Regions from separate parts of the Homo sapiens genome. Here region 2 is linked to region 1. The links come from fine-mapping of genetic effects on gene expression. Tissue or cell type: whole blood. Region 1 holds a variant in brackets; the other region holds the start of a gene. All regions are shown on one strand. Distances are from middle to middle.

Region 1 (2,685 bases):
CTCAGCCCCATCCTTCTCAACTCACTTTTCCAGGCACACCTCCAACTGATTGGAGGGGACAAAAGTACATTTTTCCATCCCTGGGAAATGCAACGTGCCAGGCACTATCACCCACTGGATGCTAGGTTTCAGCTTCAGGCGAGGCAGTGAGAACCCTCCTCAGCTGCTACCCTCCCCTGCCCTCCCCTCTCCCTCCTTCCCCATGGGATCTGTAGGGCCCGCAGCTCTGCATTGGCTTTGCTCAGACACACCAGCCTCAGGGTGCAGCTGCTATGCACTGGGGGACTGCACTGCCTCTCCTGTCACTGTGAGTCCTGGCATCTTAGTTCTCAAACATGCAGTTGAGTCAAGAAGAATGATGGCCATTCCTTCATCTCCTGACTTTTAGGATCTGGGCTAAGCTAGGACACAAACCAGGCTCAGAAATGAGGCTTTGGCTCCTGGCACCCACAGCTCTGGATTTGCAGGACAGATAAGACACGGAGCCTGCCCCGGAGCTCTTTCAGCCAGCTTCCCCACAGACAGCAGTTGGAGCTGCTGGGCCAGGCTTTGCTGGGTCCATTTAGCTTGGGGCATCTGAGAGGGGACGGTGGTGTCCTTTATCTCCAGGACTCCCACAGAGCCAGTGGACTCTGCAGCTGGGCTCTGGGTGCCTTGTGGCCGTCCTTGGGAGGTTGCCACTTGACCAAGGGAAGGAGATGGAGAGACAGCCTGAGATTTGGGGTGTGTAGAAGCTTCTCCCTCTGATTGCCCTGAATTTAGGTGAGATTTCAGTGGCATTGGAAATCTAAACTTAGGTTTGGAAAGGAGTTTCAGGCCAGGTGCGGTGGCTCATGCCTGTAACCCCAGCACTTTGGGAGGCCAAGGCAGGCTGATCACCTGAGGTCAGGAATTCGAGATCAGCTTGGCCAACATGGCAAAACTCCATCTCTACTAAACACACACACACACACACACACACACACACACACACATCAACTGGGCATGGTTGTGGGCACCTGTAATCCCAGCTACTTGGGAGGCTGAGGCAGGAGAATCGCTTGAACCTGGGAGGTGAAGATCGCAGTGAGCTGAGATTGCACCAC[T/C]GCACTCCAGCCTGGGCGACAGAGTGAGACTCCGTCTCTGAAAAATAGAAAAGACTGGAGTTTCAGAGTGTGGTGGCCCTCCTGGGAGGACCCAGGGATGTGTGATTGTGCCATACAGTTTATGCATCTGGATAATAATAATAATACCTACTTTGTTTGACTTGCACGGGATTTAAGCAAAGTAATAACAGAAAGCATCTAAAGTGGTCTCTGAAACAAAGTAAACTCAGTAATTCTTAGCAATTATTATGTCTCTGGCCATGGCTGGCAGACCCTGGACCTGAACCTGGGTAGCAAATGTCACACTGCCCTGCTCTTGTTCTTTTTCTTTTTCTTTTGTGACAGAGTCTCTCTCTGTTGCTCAGGCTGGAGTGCAGTGGTGTGATCTTGGCTCACTGCAACTGCCACCTCACAGGTTCACGCGATTCTCCTGCCTCAGTCTCCTGAGTAGCTGGGACTACAGGTGCCTGCCACCATGCCCAGCTAATTTTTGTATTTTTAGTAGAGACAGGGTTTCACATATTGGCCAGGCTGGTCTCAAACTCCCGACCTTGTGATCCACCCACCTCGGCCTCCCAAAGTGCTGGGATTACAGGGGTGAGCCACTGCACCTGGCCCCTGCACTTCTTTAATATTGTGCCTGGAAGGTGCTGGGCATGGAGTGGATGTTGCATGACTGCTTCTTGCAGAGCCTCAAGAGAGCAGGGAAGGCTGGGCTTCCCAAGTAGACTTAAAGGATTGTGTGTTTGTGCTTTTGTTTTTGGGGTATTTGTTCATTCATTCATTCATTCATTCAAGAAAACTATATAGAGCATATATTGTGGGCACTGGATGTTGGAAATGCAATGGTGAGCAAAGAAGACCCATTTCTTGCCTTCTTGAGGCTTATAGCCCAGTAGGGGGAGACAGACATTAATCAAATGTGCACCAATAAATGTCCCATTACAACCACCATAGAAGAAGGAGGTGCTCTGGGAACTTCCATTAGGGGCATTGATTCAACTGGGCTCCAGCGATGTCTCACCCCATCCACTTCCCCCACATGGCCTAGCCCACCGTTGTCTCACACCTGGAAGGCTACAATTGCTTATTCATGTCTCCCAGTTTCCTGCCTTACCTCTGTCAATTGTTTTTTCCTCGCAGCAGCCCGTGTGATCCTTTTAAAGTAAGCCAGGTCACGTAATTCTCCAATGGCTCCCTGCATCATTCAGAGTCAAATCCAACTCCCTATTAAGGCCTATGGGCCCTTAAATGATGACTCTGTTTCCTTTCTGATCTCGTCTCATTCCACTCTTGCCCTCATTCCCTCTTCCTGAGCCATGGTGGCCTCTGCTCCCACCCCAGGACTTTTGCACAGCAGCCCCCTCTACCTTGCACTCTTTTTTTTTTTTGAGATGGTGTCTCCTGTCACCCAGGCTGGAGTGCAGTGGCGCGATCTCGGCTCACTGCAGGCTCCGCCCCCTGGGGTTCACACCATTCTCTTGCCTCAGCCTCCCGAGTAGGTGGGACTACAGACGCCTGCCACCTTGCCCAGCTAATTTTTTGTATTTTTAGTAGAGACGGGGTTTCACCGTGTTAGCCAGGATGGTCTCGATCTCCT
Region 2 (2,685 bases), 24 kb after region 1:
GTTCAAGTGATTCTCCTGCCTTGGCCTCCCAAGTAGCTGGGATTACAGGCACGTGCCACCATGCCTGGCTATATAATACTTCATCAGATATGGTGGTACAGAAAAGATAAGAAGTTGTGCTCTTACAACAAAAGTTTGAAATATCAGATGATCCAGTAGAGTTCTAAAAGATAGTAAAGATTAGAGGCTGTGGGTATCAAAGATGGGTATCTCTGGGGAAAGAGAAGGAAAGAAATTATATTTTCAGATAGCTATGTCTTAGAGAAGAGTATCTTCTGATGTGCAAGTTGGATTAGAGAGAATGTATAGCTAGTGGAGGGACCAGATGAGAAGCTATTTCAATGGTCCAGGACTATTCTAAAGGTATTTAATATTAACTGGGCAGTTACTATGTTCCAGGCACTGTATCAAGCACTTTACTTACATTAACTCATTTATTTCCTGTGGCAACCCTTTGAGAAAGAATTGTCATGAGTACTCTATTTTACAGATGAGGAGACTGAGGAGGAGAGTGATTTGGCAACATGCCCAAGGTCAGATGATTAATAAATGATGGAGATGAGATTTGAGTTTGTGTGACTTCAGAATCTATGCTGTTGACCATGACCCATATACTGAACTAGGTTAACAGTGTATAACCAGGTGGAGCTTCCCTATAGGAAGTTAGAAAGTAGGATCTGGAGCCCAGGAGAGATATTGGGATATTGGGTTAGAGGAAGAGGTGTGAAGTCATCCGCATGGAGATAACGGTTGAGAAAGACATGGGGAGTGATCACCACAGCTCCTTAAGTAGAGGGTGTTTTATGATTCAAAAGTAGGCAGCCATAGAGAAGGGAAGCTCCTTAGATCGATGAAGTAATCCCAGATAGGAAGAAGAGTGAAAGAGGCAGGGAACAGAGTTTTCTCTGTTGGAGAGGTTTCGTAAACTGGGACTGACTTTCATGAAATTCCGAGTCATGAAATCTCAGGGGGTGACTCAAACATTACGTTCACATTAAATGAAGGCCAACAGATTTTCCTGTTTGTGCTTGGTCCATTCTCAGAAACGTCTCTTGCCACCCTTTCTCTTCTGCTAAGTAAGGCTTAAAATTAGGAAGCATTCTTTAAAAGGCAAAAGAGGAAATAGATGAGTGAGAACACAAAGGAAACTTGGACAAGTAGAAAGTGGATGACCCAGGCTCCGTTACATATACTTGGATTCCAGCTGGGACCTAGATTTGCTGAGGACGGAAGCCAAGGAGACAGGAACATGTGGCTGCTCCCAGCTCTACTCCTTCTCTGCCTCTCAGGTGAGTGGGGCTGTGGCTTTGGGGACTTGGTTTTGCAGGGGGCAGGACAGTAGGTAGAAGAGCTGTCCTGGGTTCAAACCAGAGGTGAAGTGTCCACAGAAAAGGGAAAGATACATCCGTTCATTCACCTGTGCATCCTTCTATACATTCAATCATTCATCCACGGATCCTACAAACACTTACTGAGCACCAGATATGTGCCAGGACTGTTCTGGGTGCTGTAATTAAGAGTAACTTCTGAACTGAGGGAGTCAACTAACTACAATACAATGTGGAAATTACTGTTGTAGAGACTCATTCATGTGGTGATGAGAGTATGCAACAGGAACCCCTCACTTTGCTCTTGGAAGGGTGGGAGATGTCACTGAGGCTTCATTGGAAGTCCATCCTGCAGGATGAATGAGTTGGCTGAGTGGGAAAGGAATAGCTTATGTGCAAGTGTGAGGACATTAAAGACCATGGAGAGTTCAAGAATTAACAATAGTTCTGTTTTGACGAAGCTTAGTGTAAAGGGGTTGGAATGGTTTGTGAGAAATAATTAATGGGCTGGGCGTGGTGGCTCACGCCTGTAATCCCATCACTTTGGGAGGCCAAGGTGGGTGGATCACCTGAGGTCAGGAGTTTGAGACCAGCCTGGCCAACATGGTGAAACCCTGTCTCTACTAAAAATACAAAAATTAGCTGGGCGTGGTGATGCATGCCTGTAGTCCCAGCTACTAGGGAGGCTGAGGCAGGAGGATCGCTTGAACTTGGGAGGCGGAGGTTGCAGTGAGCCGAGATTGCACCACTGCAGCAGTCTGGCCTGGGTGATAGAGTTGAGATCCTGTCTGAAAAAAAAAAATGCCATCCTCAACATCTACCTTAAATCCTTCCCGGAACAAGGTGTGGTGTAAACAAGTAAATGAAACTGTCCTGCAAAGGTTGGACTTCAGAAGAGAAACTCTTATTAATAGACATTCAAAATACAAAACTGCAGGAAAACACATTTGTCTCTGGGGAAATAAATTTAGGCTAAAAATTAGAGGACATTCTTCATGTTTGCAGAATGAATTTTATGGTTGAGTTCCCTCACAAAACATAGAAATTGCCCAATGTAATGACAAGATTCTTTCTAGAAGGGTGAGTGAAAATGACAGCGATTTAAAGGAAGAAGACCAGGTAGGTGACATGGACCCAAACTCGTGGGCTCAAGCAATCCTCCTCTCTTGACCTCCCAAAGCACTGGGATTACAGGCATGAGCCACTGCACTCAACCAATGTTTGCTCATTTTGTATTTGAATTTGCTTCCTTTTTCTTTGCCCTTTCCATCTCTCTTTCCACCCCTATCTCATTCCCCATCCTCAGACTCGCAATGTGACCTGCGCAGGTCCCTCTGAAAATCTTAACTGGGAAAGA

Evidence for each region. PIP is the estimated chance that this variant, and not a neighbour inherited with it, causes the effect.
Region 2: it holds the start of CD300E, and the variant in region 1 is fine-mapped to the expression of CD300E in whole blood (TOPMed, PIP above 0.99).

What each region holds. Positions count from the first base shown.
Region 1 is chr17:74,645,778-74,648,462 of GRCh38, reverse strand. No RefSeq gene overlaps it. Among named protein-coding and RNA genes, the nearest start is that of CD300E, 23 kb to the right of the region's middle. The variant T/C (reference allele first, on the strand shown) is at 1,086.
Region 2 is chr17:74,622,186-74,624,870 of GRCh38, reverse strand. It overlaps CD300E (CD300e molecule), which reads left to right and starts at 1,133. Exons shown (of 4, transcript NM_181449.3): 1 at 1,133-1,289. The coding sequence starts at 1,250. All of the region lies in intron 3 of LOC101928343 (a long non-coding RNA gene), which reads right to left.